2 linked regions of the Homo sapiens genome follow. The protein of the gene in region 1 interacts with the protein of each later gene in a pairwise test. Each region holds a gene or a part of one and is shown in the gene's direction. Other genes may lie near its edges.

Region 1 (7,611 bases):
CAAGATTCCCTCAAGGTAGCCAAAAGATTTCTCACCAGAGTACCTGAGTCTAACATTCTGTGTTGCCATACTACACCTGGCTGGGTGTCAGTTGCTATTTATCAGTATGCTCACACATCTTTTTTAGAGTTAAGAGGAAAGTGAAATATTTCTTGTATCAAGGCCCTATCAAAATTAGAAAGCCAGAAGTGAATCAGGAAGAGTATTACTCTGATATGCAAAGTATATCGTTGTTGGAAAAACAAGAATTATGATGCTATTATGAAACAAATCCCTCCAACTTCACTCATTACATTACCTACCTGGCCCCCAGACACATCTGAGTTTGCAATGACTCCTGTAATAAAATGGTGGTAGACATACAATCATATACATGAGACAGCATTTATAAAACCAGTGTAATAAGTAACAGTTATTACACTAATTGAGGGACTCATATTAGTCTATCATATTGTATCCTTTTGCTGATAGAATGATCTTATCAAATTCCCATTGATTAATAGATTCCCTCAAAGTGCTACCAATAGCCACTGAAAAAACTTAATGAACTCGCAAAGTAGCTCCTCAGTGGCTGAAAAGCATAGCTGTAATTCCCTGAGTGCCTAACTTCTTGGCAGCCATATACACTTGTGGAAGATGGATCCAAGGAAAATGGGTGAAGGATCTTTTGTGTCAGAAGAGAGGAAAATATGGAAATGAAAGCTTTTGGCAGGTCTAACTTGCCACATTACTGCTCAGGAAAAAAGGCAATCAATCGCTACATATTTCTTGTTGTTGAGGATCATGATAAAATAAATATAATTTAAGCTGTAGGAGCATAATAGATTAAAATCAACCCCTTGGATTGACTCAGGAAGCAAATGAGTTGCCAGTGTGGACTAGTACATTGATATAATCTACTATTTCCTTAAAGCATTTTGGTCATCTACTTTCTGCTCTAGTTAGCATTTATGTTAAGCATATGAACAGCAGTTGACTATGAAGGCTCAGAGGTTGAACTGCATCTTTGGAGAAATAGAGGAAATAACATGTGATTGAGGTTTGGGAAATGAAAATTGTCATAATACATTAAGGAAGAAAATAATCTGAAGGCCAAGTACTCACTGAATCAGAAAAAAAGTTGGAGAGTCCTAATATTGGAGCCTGTGAACTGGAAACTAGATATGAATTCATAACCTACGAGGGTATAAATGATGGCAAGAAGTCAGTAAACTGAGTCAGTGTTATTTTTGAGACTGAAGGAAGGTTCTTATGGAACAGGGAGTCTGAATAGTTCAAGTTCTGGGCATTAAATTGATGATGCAAATAGAAGACAGTTTGATGAAGAGTGACAATGATTAAAATCTGAGATGGATTGAAATACGAAGAAAATTTAAAAGAGATAAAGCCTTGTATTGCTGGCATGATAGAATGAGATTTTAAAGGTATCTACTTTAAATATGAGCAGGTTACTCACCAGAATCCAACCGTTTGCATACAGACAAAATAAATTGGCATAAGCATCATGGAGCTATTTAGAATGGGCATTTTATTAATGTCTTGCCTATCTTTTATTGCCCTGCTCTGAAATGTAATCTGAGGGAACCATTAGACAATATTCGCTGAGGAATGACTATGATATTTTGGCTCTTTTTCTAACTCCAACTACTACGAATTTCACAATGCCATGAAAACACTTCAGCAAGAATTTTGGCAAAATATTTACAATTTCTTCAATAATATTGCTTGTGGAATATGAGGAATGGACAGCAACCACTTAGTGACTGCAGAGAGACAAGCAGGAATGAGGAAAAACAATTACTTACTACGCTATTTGTGATGAAAAAATCTGAGTTTAGCTTATTATAAAAAGCCTGTTGGGAGCCAAGCATCGCACATGTCAGAGGAACATGCTGCTTCCCTTCACCATGTCTGAGATAGGGTACCTACAGTTGGGCTGTTTGTGGGATGAAGAAGTGCTTCTATAACATCAGCAGGCGTGTGACCAGTGGCTTGTGGGAGACAAGCACTTATGGGAATAAAAGGGAACCTGGCACAGGCCTTGGGCCTCTGGCATCATTAGTTACAGGTCTGCCAAGATGCTTTGGGAAACATTTTAATTTAAATGCCAAGTCTATTTCAACGAAGCTCCCTGGTATGACCTGTTGGGAGTCCAGAGTGAGATGGATAGGTGCTCACTTTGGAGGGCACTGGTGAATCAGCTGGTGCTTCTATAAAAAGCATACTGGGGGTTAAACATCACTAAGTCCCTACTCAGCCCAGGAAAATCACAGTGAGAGCCATGGGATCTATGGCTTTCATAGCATTTTACTAGTGACTCGTAAATGCAGGAAAGATTAGATACTAACACACAAAAGGCAGAGACACCTCTGGGTGTTTATTCAAAATATCAAACTTAGAGAACTTGAAGAATAAAGACCCCAGCATTCTTTTTTCCTCCCCCGAAGCATACTCACAGGCTACTATGACTATAAATTTAATAAAGCAGAGTTAAGAGCCTGATTTGAATTATTTCAATATTTTTCCTCCAAAACTATCACAAGACAGAAAAAATAAACATTTTGAAACACAACGAGAAAAAAGAAAGAAAAGAGCTGAGACTGAATAAAACACTAAGCATTGTCCTTCGATGTAAAAAACTATTTCTGTTAGTGTGTAGGCCCAGGTTGGAAAGAGATGTACAAAAACACGAATTCAGAGGATCGGAAGAATTAAAACGCCCCCAAGAATAACATGAAAGTATTTGATGTTGCTTCAGGGGCAAGGGCGAGTATGTATATGTACGTAAATCCATTTCCTCAGAGGCTCCTTGGCAGTCTGTTACAACACCACGCTAATGAAAGCCAGGTCTTTAAGTTCACCCCGCCTCTGGACTATTAGTTTCTCCTTTGCGCCCTGCGGGGACTGCATTCCTGGAAATGAAAGCACACGAGTTGGGGAAGGGCTGGGGTGCCAGAGAGGGTAGGAAGCTGGAGCCCACGGAGCCTGGGATGGAGAGGTGGGTGGGCCCAGGCCTGGGGCGTGGGGTGGCGGTGGAAGGTCTGGGGTCTCACCCTTCGGAGTTTTGAGTCTTGTCTGGCTCCAGGGAGGGAGATCCAGGGGAGATATTTACGAACGGAAGCCACACGATCAGCTTGGACTTTTAGGCCAGTCACTCCGCCTTAAGTGGGTGCGTGAGAACCAGAAGAGGGACTGGCTGTAGCGCTGCAAGTGAGATCCTGTCCCAAAAGATGAGCCTGACTTAGGCTGGGCCCCGCAGGCCGGCAGGGCCAGCCGGCATCCCTGGTAGGGGAATCGGGAAGGTCTCAATGATAAATCTGTGTGTGGAGACTCAGAGGGCACGAAATAGGCTCTGCTGATGTCCTCTGCCCCTCATAGCCTGCCAGCCACCCCAGCCTTCACCCCTGCCTCAGCATCCTTCCAACTAGTTGAATCAATCAGGAGCCCAAGGGAAAGGAATTGGTCCCAGTGTATGAAATGAGTCTGACCTACTGGGGAAGTCAGAGAGGAGTGTCCCGAACTGGGTGGGAAGGAAACGAGTTCCGTGCGCGGGGCTGGGGCAGGAGTGAGGCGCAGCGGCCGAGATCCTGAGCCCCGGGACCCTTGTTCCGGGCCCCGAGGCCTACTTGGTAGTTGCCCCTCGGGGTTCCGGGTGGGTGACTGACAGTTGCAGCAGCTCTGGGGAGGCGAAGGATAGGCAATGACTTGGGGCTCCCGTCCACTCGGCTTTGAGGTCCCCGCGGCCCGATGACCCGGCCTCGGTGACAGCAGCCGCGACGGCGGCAATCTCGACAGGGAGCTAGGCGGCTCATGGTGGGTCAGGGGGCGACCGAGGAGGGACCACGCGGCCTGTAGGGGGCAGCGCCGAGCTCGGGAGGAGACAGCAGCCGGCGGGTGGGGTGGGTCTGGGCTGCCCCCTCCGGGAGCTGCCCCGGGGCCGCACGGCGATTGTCATACCCGGCCGCCCCTGCCCGCCGTGGGCTTCCTCTCGGCGCCGCGGGCCTTAACGGGGCTCTGAGGGGACGTGACAGAGCTCGGCACGCGGCAGCCTCTGGGGAGTTAGGGTCCGGAGAGACCCACGCGTCGCCCCCCGCCCGCCCGGGGCCGGGAGATCCTCGGGAGCCGCCTCCGCGTGTCCAGAGAGTGTCGGGGCGGCCGCCACTTCCCCTCGCCCTTCGCCGGAGGTGGGCGCCTTTTCCTGCGTGGCGGGTGCTCCGACCCCAGTTGCTCTGAGCCCCGGGGAAGCGCGCCCCGAGCCCCTGACGTGGGCGCCCCGTTACCTCGGGGTGGGTGCCTGGGGCCCCTGAGGTGGGCGCGGGTTGCCCCGGGGTGGGCGCCCGGCCCGCGCGGGTTATTTTTGGCGCCCGCAGAGGCGCGTGTGTTGGGGCGTGTTTTCCTTCCCCAGGTGCCGAGAGCCGGGGCTCCGCCGGCGCCGGAGCTGACTCGTCTCTCTCTTCTTTCCCCTGCAGGAATCTTCCGATAATTCTGCCGCCGCGACTTTAACCGTGCGCAAGGCGAGAGCTCGAAACAAACATCACATCTAAATTAAAAAAAAAAAAAAGCGGAAGAAGCGGCCGAGGCGGCGGCGGGAGGAGAGGAGGAGGGGCCGCGCGCGGCGGCCCGAGGCGGCGGCGGGGACGCGGGGACGCGAGGACGCGGCTTTGTGCAGGCGGGTCGCGGGGCGCCCATGGCGGAGTGCGGCCGGGGGGGCGCCGCCGGCGGGGCCCTGCCCACCTCCCCGGGCCCGGCCCTCGGCGCCAAGGGCGCCCTGAAAGCCGGAGTGGGGGAAGGCGGTGGCGGGGGAGGTCGCCTCGGCCACGGGCGGGCGCGCTATGACAGCGGCGGGGTTTCCAACGGAGACTGCAGCCTCGGCGTGTCCGGGGACGAAGCCCGGGCTAGCCCTACCAGGGGACCCCGCGGCGTTGCGCTCGCCCCGACCCCCAGCGCGGTCGTCTGTACCCTCCCCCGGGAGAGCAAGCCGGGCGGCCTGCCCCGCCGGAGCAGCATCATCAAGGTAGGTGGGAGAAGGGCGCTCATCGCCCACCCTCAGCCGTCCTTGGATTCTATTTTCTCCCTGGGGGAGTGGTGGTGGAAGGAGGAAGCCCACTGCTAACAGGAACCACTGGAGCATGGGTGCTTGGGGTGGTTGAGCGGGGATTGGATGCAAATGGCATGTGGAAAGAATGGAGAGGTGATCCCTAATGTGCAGGGGGAGCTGTGCTCAGACATCCTCAGTTGAACTTGGGGCTGTCACCTCTTCCAGGATTGGTCTGGCATTAGGGCCTTGTACCTGCCGGGGTAGGGCATACTCTTATGTGTAGCCTAGTCTGGTTAACAGACTCCCTGTAAGATTTCTATTGTATCTTAAACACAGATAGGGATTATGTGAAATGTGAGAACATTTTCTTAAAAATCCCAGGCGGCGAACAGAGGGTGAACAGAGATTATTTAATAGGGTTCTTCTGATCCGTATACAGTTAGTTGGCTCTTACAAATGTTTACACTTCGAGGGTGCAAAATCTCCTAATATCCGGTCACTCAGTCACAAAGAAAAATAGAGTAGATTTCTGAACATAAATGCAGATTTCCGCTTTCTTAGGCTCAAAAGCTCAGAGATTACAGTTCCACACGATTTAATCTTTTTCCTTGCTGCAGTAGGCAGGCCTCGAGTACTGTGGAAGTTCTTTTGGGCAGTTTGCTTGGTTTTGCTTGCACAGTGTTAGCGGAAGAAAGCCAGCGATTGTTTTGAGCATTTTAAACTCAAGAAGTAATATTAGGAACTCCCGAGTTTGTGTTAGTTTCATTCTAATGTTACATTTTGGTTCGCAATGTAAAAATATTTTTCATGACATGAAGTGCAAAAAAAAATAGTTGATGAGCTAAGAAGAGCAGAGCCTTAGGCAAGACCAGCTCATTCGGCTCGCTCAAGTTTGGAGCAAATGAAAACATTGCTTTCTGAAAATCAAGGAGTTATCAGGACAGGGAGCAGCAAAGCAAATTGACAGGCTGCACCCACCCTTCCTGTGGCTGATAACTGGTGGGAGGGCAGAACGTGCCACAGTAAAGAGAGTTGGCAGTGGTGGTATCTGAAATTTTATTGGACCTACAGAAATCTTCCAAGTACTGTGAAAATGTCTGATGGTGTTATCAACTTATGCAGTAATCTAGTGAAATATACCATCTTGCTACTCTATGTAAGAGGCAATTGTGAAACTGCATTTCCCTTTGTCATCTGTTTGCGCAGTTTATGTCTGGGCAAGGACACAATTTGAAGGGTTTGGAGATGAAGTGTATTAACTACCTGCAGCACACACGTAGAGATAAACTAAGGAAAGTAAAGTGTCTTTTTGCTGCATACATAGCTTTTAGTGACTTACGTTTTCTTTTACTCTGTAGCTTATGTTTCCATGGAAGTTGCTTTCAACTGTGCATGATAATCAATCCTATTGACAGAGTTAGGTGACATTTCTGTTTTTATTTGTCATAAAATATTTGTGGTGATTTTGCATTGTGGTGTTAATAAAATTTGAGGTGAAAATTCCAAAGAAGATACCAGCCTACCTAATTTTAACCCCTTTCTTTTAATTGTTTTGAATACTTGTTTTTGCATTAAAAAATCAAACTTTATTAGTGTCCATAGTGAGATTCATAGTGTAACTTACTGAATTACAAAAACATTTGTTTTAATTTTACATTACTGGGCGATAAGCAAGAAGGATGATTTGTTAGTATTTCTGATATATGGAATTGGGAACTTGTCAATAGATACCATTTCTTAATTGAAGGCTCTAGAAGCACATGGGGGAAATGATTAATGTTCAAAAATCACTGATTTTAGAAATGATATTGATACTTATGTTGAATTCTGAAACTTTTAAGGATATTTTGTCATTTTTCTTCTTTGTAAAGAAAGCATTTGGCTTCTTGTTCACCAGTGTAACCCTAGATATAAAGTGCCAGGAATGTAGTAGCAGCTCAATAAATTGCTTATTGAATGAATGGAGAAAGTACATGTTTTCTCTGAGTTCTGTTAATTTATAAAACAATTGGTTTTGGATTTACCAGTCCCATATTTTGTTCATTGTATTGTACCTCCAAAGAAGGCTTGACATACTCCTTTTTCTTGCCTCTGTTTTCACTTTGCATTTTCTTAAAACTTTCGAAAATTATGGAAGTAGTGTTGAAAGTTGATCAATACTGGGTTATAGGAAAGAGAGGATGCTATATTTAAATAGGTAACTACTTGGTATATTTCCCTTTGAATTGGTGCCTTGAAGCATCAAGATTTTTGGAATGTATTGTGGTATTTTCTAAAGATAACTTCCAGCATCAGGACAATATCCTAATAGAAAACAAAGTCTTTAACATCAAATTTCATAAAGCAACAAATACTGCACAGATAGTTTTGTCATGTGAATGGCAGAAATTATGTTTCACTTTTGTTTAAAAAAAAAAAGAATAAAAAGCTAAAGCAGAAGCCCATGTGAAAAAGCAATAGTGACATCTTTCCTTGGTTTCCTTATTTTTTTTAATATAAGGGATGAATGCAGTCAGGTGGTCTCTGAGTAGAGGCAGGAGTAGATTAGTAAGCAAGGTGATAATTGGGGACTT
Region 2 (7,027 bases), on another chromosome or scaffold:
GTGTTTCTGACGGAACTGCGAGAGGCCACGTGGTACGAGCTGCGCATGAGGGCTTGCAACAGTGCGGGCTGCGGCAATGAAACAGCCCAGTTCGCCACCCTGGACTACGATGGCAGTGAGTCGCAAGGGTGGAAGGGATGGTACAGAGGCTGGAGCAGGGTGGTGCGAAGGAAGTGGGCAGAGTGGCAGATACATAAAGAGACAGACTAATAGAAAAACAGGCAGGAATGCAGGTGGGGGAAATGCTGGCCTGCAGGTGAAGGGGCTGACAAAGGGGACATCAGGTTTGTTGCAGCCAGGTAAGCGGGCAGATGCACCAATGGCCACTACAGATGGACAGACACATAGGTCAGTAATACCAAAGATGGAGAGTCTTTGAAGCTGCAGTCCTCAATCACTGTGCATTGTTTCAGGGAGGTGACAAGGGAGGTAGAGGTGTGGTTGAGGTCCTGACCTCTAAGAACTTTCTGCTGATATGGAATATTAGCCAGGAGGGGACAGCCTATGCTGCAGTCGCAAATACCAAAACCTGGTGGCTTAACCCTGTACTGATTTGTTTCTTGCTCTCTTGGAGTCCTGCGAGGGTTGAGTGGCCACCATCTTTTTGAACATGGAGACTCCAGGATCCACAGAAAAGGCATACTACCAGTTCCTAACTGCATCTGCCACATGGGGATACATACACACGTGCACACATACACACACATACACACACACACACATCCATTGAAGGGACATGGAAGGCTGAATTCATAGAAGCCCATTGTCACAAGTCTACCTATGTGTTAAGGAAACAGAATAAAAGCAGTATTAAAAGGGGATGGACTCAAGCAAGGAAGGCTTCATGAAGGAGGTGACTCTTAAGCAAAGCTCTGAAACAGGCAAGGGTCAGGGCTTGGCAGAGGGTTATGTCAGCAGGAGAACTTGCCATGCTTCCCCACAGGAGCCCCAGGTTAACAGATATGGCCCCCAGGAGGGGTGAGCAGGGAGAGAATGTAGGGTTTGTAGTGGTTTTTGTCTCCATCTGGGGAAGAGAACCCAGGGTCCACTGCCCAGACTTCTCCCTACCATGCTTCACCCTTTGTTCTCCCCACCCCAGCTGGATATCAGAATTTAAGCCCATCAATCCACTCTCTGGGAATGAGCACTGAACTTCAACAGGCGAGAGACTAACTCCAGGAGACTTTAGGCTAATTCTACAACAGTACCAGGACTTTGTTAATAAAATGCAATATTAAAACTACACAACTGTTCATGGCTGTCCTGATAGGACCAGAATTTGGGGAGCAGAGGGGAAGTCCAGGGTTCTGTGCCAGGAGGTGGAGGTCAGAGCCCAAGGGCAGCAAGAGAGGTCAGAGGACTGCCCCACCCATGAGATGTTCTGCACAGCACCTGGCTCATAAGGGACATCTAATTCTATTCTTTGCCCTCATTCAGGCACCATTCCACCCATCAAGTCTGCTCAAGGTGAAGGGGATGATGTGAAGAAGCTGTTCACCATCGGCTGCCCTGTCATCCTGGCCACACTGGGGGTGGCACTGCTCTTCATCGTACGCAAGAAGAGGAAGGAGAAACGGCTGAAGCGACTCCGAGGTGGGGGAGCTTCCTATGGGCCTTCCAGGAGGGGGTGTTGGCTCTCAGCCACATTGTCCCCCCCCTTCCCTGGCTCACAGCACCATCTGGATGATACAGAGTGCCTGTGTCCCCTTGAAGGAGGAGCAGCCACTCAGACTTTCTGAAACCTCCTTAGTTCAGAAGGTTTCGTTCACCACTTCCTCCTCTATGCCCCCAAGACTTTGTGCCTGCCCCAGTCAGGGCTAATATTTAGAGGTACACACTGGTAAAGCCATGTTGATTGTTAAATATTTAAACATTTCCATGTTGGTTGGTAAACAGATGTTGCTCCTTTCCACACTGGATGCTTCATCCCCTCTCACGGGATCCCTGCAACTTTCCTAGGACCCATTCACTAAAGAATAGACCTGCAGGTAGTCTCTAGGACAATGCTCAGTTCTAACTGGGCAGTTTCTGCACCATGTCAGGTGTTAAATATTTTGAATATTATCCCCTTTTTCCATTACCTGATGCCACAGTCTACTGTGAATGGGTCTGATTTACCTCAGTTTTCCCACAGCCTAACACAGTGTCTGGCACCTACTAGTTGCTTCATAAATATACTTTCACTTATTTGGAAAACTTTTATTGGGTCTGCTTCATCATAGATACTGCAAGACTATAGAGATCAATAAAGAACGGCCAAGCCATACTCTTACAGAGTTTATCATCTAATGTGAGGAGCCAGGAGACAATAGTAGCACAGAAGAGGGAATGACTAATGCTCCCTATTGTGTTCAGGAATTGGGTAAATGGATGAATAGATGGTTCAATGGATGGTTGATGATTGGATGGATGAATGGATGGAAGGATGGATGGATGGATGGATGATTGGGTGGATAATTGAATGACTAGATGGGTGGTGAGTAGTTACATGGTTGGATGGTTGAATGGATCACTGAATAAATGGTTGAATGGAAGGATGTATAGATAGAAGGATGGCTGGATGGCTGAATAGATGGCTGGGTGTAAGGATGGTTGAATAAAAGGCTGAATGAATAGATGGGTGGATGGATGGATAAATTGATGGATTGTTGAATGGCCAGATAATGATTATATGAATAGTTGAACAGATAGGTAGATGATTGAACAAATGCTTGGATGGATGGATGACTATTCTGATAGATCGATGGATGACAAGATGGATGGATGGCTGGATGGAAAAACTATTGGAATTGTGGAATGATTGGGTGAATGGTTAAAGGAGTGGTTGGATGTAAGGTTTAACATATAAATATAAGAATGATTGAATGGATGTTGAATTCATGAGTGAATGGTTGAATGGATTACTGGTTGAATCAATGGGTGGATGGATAGACAGATGGATGGTTGAATAGGTGGATGATGAATTAATGGTTGGTTGGATGGATGAATGGATAATTGGATGGTAGGTGGTTAGATGGATGGATGGCTAGATCAGTGAATGGATGGATGGATGGATCAATGGATGGGTGAATGGATAGCCAGACAATTGGATGGTTAGATGCATGCATACAGCTATTTGGGATTCATTCTGACAGCTCATTCTCAGGTATCAGGGGTCTAATAAATTAACTAGGCCCTTTAATTCTCCTCTCTTCCAAATTCCTAACCTGAGAGTCCTGATCTTATTCAAGGCTCCTCTGAGACAAAGCAGGGGCCACAAAATCCATCCATGGACTTTTTGGGGACAGAGGCCCCAGAGGAGGAAGTGAAGCCTCTTGGTTGATATGAGAGTTTAATCATCTGGGGCTTCCCATTGACCACCTCTACTACATCCTCCACTCTCTCCTCTCCACAAGATATAACTGAAGATAAATCTTCCACTGATATCCATTTCCAGCCTGTTATGGTGTTGTGTTTAAGCAGAGTCAATTCATGAAGCAGATGAGGCACTTGCTATGCCCCCAGTGCTTTGGGAAGGTTCTCTCAATTAGATAAAATTTGAAGAAAGGAAAACAGACTTGAGCCAAATCCTGAATTTGGAGCAGTGAAACCGCGTCATGTTTTGGGCTGTTTTGTAGGTCCTTACATTTCTCCTTCTGCTTCTTAGGAGACCAGCCCTGGCCCCATTTTAAGGAATTCTCCACCTTGTTTCCCATGCCTCTCCCATTGTCATCCTGTTCAAACTTCATTCTCACCCAGCCCTCCTCTCCCTCTACTGTTTTGCAGATGCAAAGAGTTTGGCAGAAATGTTGATAAGGTGGGTATCACCAAGCTGCTTCCTTTCTCCTCCCTTCTCCCCTCTGTCCTGAGGAGGACCCAGGAGCCTCGCTCTGAACTCCCAGAATAGGAGGCAGGCTTCTAAAATCCCACTGTCCTGCAGAGCCCCCTTCCCCAACCCCTTATGGCTGCTGAGCCACCACCTCCAGTCTTTCTCCCCACAGCAAGAACAATAGAAGCTTTGACACCCCTGTGAAAGGGCCACCCCAGGGCCCACGGCTACACATTGACATCCCCAGGGTCCAGCTGCTCATCGAGGACAAAGAAGGCATCAAGCAACTGGGTGAGTGACAGGTGCCACAAGTTCCCTGTCCTGCTGGGTGTGCTTCCCCAGGCTACAACCCATGGAAGTCAAACACCAACCCTCATGGCAGTGCCCAGGGTTCTGGCAGTAGCCCCATCAACCACTCAACAACCTTAGAACTCACTGTGGCTTCTCTCAAGGGCTAATTTTCCTCCTCTGTCCAACGGAGGGAATTGCTGGCCTTTCTGTGACTCAACATTGGATAAAGTCTGGGTTGGTGGGTCATGCCTGTTATCCCAGCACTTCGGGAGGCCAAGGAGGGAGGATCACTTGAGGCCAGAAGTTCGAGACAAGCCTGGGCAACATAGTGAGATCCCATTTCTACCACAAAAAAAAAAAAAAATAGCCAGGCATGACACATCCTGTAGTCTCAACTACTCAGAAGGTTGAGGTAGGAGGATAGCTTGAGCCCAGGAGATTGAGGCGGCTGCAGTGAGCAGTGATCACAATTAAGCCTGGGCAACAGAGTGAGACCCTGTCTCAAAAAAACAAACAAACAAATCCACAAACAAAAAACACATTGGATAAAGACAAAGAGAAATTCAGTCACATCCAAAAGAGCTTTAAAAAACAATTGTAAAGGACTCCCAGTAATTGTCCTTCTTTCCCCAGGAGATGACAAGGCCACCATCCCTGTGACAGATGCTGAGTTCAGCCAAGCTGTCAACCCACAGAGCTTCTGTACTGGCGTCTCCTTGCACCACCCAACCCTCATCCAGAGCACAGGACCCCTCATCGACATGTCTGACATCCGGCCAGGAACCAGTACGCATTATCCCCAGGGAGACAGCCCTTTTCCCAACCGGGGTGGCTTGGGCATAGCATGACACAGAGGTGGTGTTTTTTTTTAAAGGGAGGAGGGAGCTTAATGGAATAGAATGCAAAAATGGAAAGCACTGGAATGAGCGTCTGGAGACCTCAACTGCAGATTTACTAACTGTGACCTTGGGCGTATCACTAACTTTATCTCTCTGGGCCTGTTTCCTTACCTAGAAATTTTGAGAGTATTGGGTATTCGTGTTCTCCAAGGGTCTTTCTATCTCTAGCACCGTGTATCTGGACATAGGATAGAACACATCAAGGACTGTAGGGAATGAATGGACAGTCAGGAGGCAGCAGGAAAGGACATCACATTCTCCCCCAGGTGGAAGGAAAAGATGGGGTGGGCGGGGAGAATGCCCTCCACTGCCCCCTCCCCAACCTTGACTCGATTGCTCTTCTCCTCTGGGGACAGCGATGTGGTTAGGAAAGGCAGCATTCCCAAGGGCGCTTCTGTGGCTGCATCTGCCTCTTCCCTTGCTCCCCCCTGCCCTTTCTGGTAAGTGCCAGCTGCCCAAGCCTGGGTGCCTTTGGTTGGAGGATGCAATTTCTTGCTTCTGTCTGTGCAGATCCAGTGTCCAGGAAGAATGTGAAGTCAGCCCACAGCACCCGGAACCGGTACTCAAGCCAGTGGACCCTGACCAAGTGCCAGGCCTCCACACCTGCCCGCACCCTCACCTCCGACTGGCGCACCGTGGGCTCCCAGCATGGTGTCACGGTCACTGAGAGTGACAGCTACAGTGCCAGCCTGTCCCAGGACACAGGTGTGCCTAAGGCCCTGCTGGCATCCTGAACACCTCCCCCCAGTTCCCCATCATTCACCTTCACCTTCTATTCTTCCCAGCTTCTACCCACCAGCTCATGGGGCCCAAGGCACAAGTCAGTTTCATGTCTAGCTGGTCACTGACCCACTGTGCAGCTGGGACAAAAACACTTGACCTCACTGAGCTCTACTTAGTCAGGGAGTTAATTTTGCTTTCCCAAAAACTGTCAGAGAAAATGGTACACATGATGTTCATTGGAGAAAGGGCTGAATGTTCCAGGGGATGGTTGCTTATTTTCAAGAATGAAAGGTGTTCTGCCCTTCATGAGCCAAAGATCCTACTTCTGCCACCACTGCCACCTTCACGGGATCTTCTCAGCCTGGTGCCCTCCATGGCCAGACTTACAGATGGCTGCTGGGGTTACGGGCAGGGGAAGTGCTCAGTCAGTCTCACTTATACCCTCCTCCCCGTAACCCACCCCTTTCCTCTTAACTCCCCAGACAAAGGAAGGAACAGCATGGTGTCCACTGAGAGTGCCTCTTCCACCTACGAGGAGCTGGCCCGGGCCTATGAGCATGCCAAGCTGGAGGAGCAGCTGCAGCACGCCAAGTTTGAGATCACCGAGTGCTTCATCTCTGACAGTTCCTCTGACCAGATGACCACAGGCACCAACGAGAACGCCGACAGCATGACATCCATGAGCACACCCTCAGAGCCTGGCATCTGCCGCTTTACCGCCTCACCACCCAAGCCCCAGGATGCGGACCGGGGCAAAAACGTGGCTGTGCCCATCCCTCACCGGGCCAACAAGAGTGAGTGCTCAGACCACCTCCCAGGCAGTGCCCCCCCGCCCCCTGGCCCCAGCCCCATGAGCCCTGGCTAGATCTAGTTCTGCCAGCACCAGGATCATGCCAGCCCAGCTTGGCTCCTTGGCAGTGCAGGGTGGTACCAACAGCAAGGACTTAGGAGCAGGCAGATCAGGGCCCACATCCTGGCTTAACCTCTTCCTATGTCTGTGGCCTTGGGCAAGTCATTTAACCTCTGTGGCCTTAAGTTTCTCATTTGTAAAATGCCAACGATAGTATCTACTTTGCATTGTCATAATGGGCATTAGAAATGATATACATCCCCAGCGTGTTGTAAGGCCTCATTCATTCGGTAGTGAGCATCCCCTTAATCTGAAGCTGTGCCAGGATGGAAACAGATCCCTTCAGGGTCAGCTGCCCAAGGGCCTCTGGTCTCAATGCTGTTTGAATTTAATCCAGACCCAAACAAACAATCCTGGCAGCTCCACCCACCATGGTCATACCTCTCAGTAGGCAGT

The links. The genes of interacting proteins can lie anywhere in the genome.
Region 2: the proteins of PLCL2 (region 1) and DSCAML1 interact in a two-hybrid assay, tested with the Homo sapiens proteins (one study listed by BioGRID and IntAct).

What each region holds. Positions count from the first base shown.
Region 1 is NC_000003.12:16,880,353-16,887,963, forward strand, and holds the start of PLCL2 (inactive phospholipase C-like protein 2), read left to right. Parts: upstream 1-4,602; 5' UTR 4,603-4,687; coding exon 4,688-5,014; intron 5,015-7,611. UniProt on the Homo sapiens protein: May play an role in the regulation of Ins(1,4,5)P3 around the endoplasmic reticulum.
Region 2 is NC_000011.10:117,430,210-117,437,236, reverse strand, and holds part of DSCAML1 (cell adhesion molecule DSCAML1 isoform 1 precursor), read left to right. Parts: coding exon 1-115; intron 116-1,437; coding exon 1,438-1,593; intron 1,594-3,765; coding exon 3,766-3,796; intron 3,797-3,980; coding exon 3,981-4,099; intron 4,100-4,732; coding exon 4,733-4,885; intron 4,886-5,508; coding exon 5,509-5,703; intron 5,704-6,203; coding exon 6,204-6,515; intron 6,516-7,027. UniProt on the Homo sapiens protein: Cell adhesion molecule that plays a role in neuronal self-avoidance. Promotes repulsion between specific neuronal processes of either the same cell or the same subtype of cells.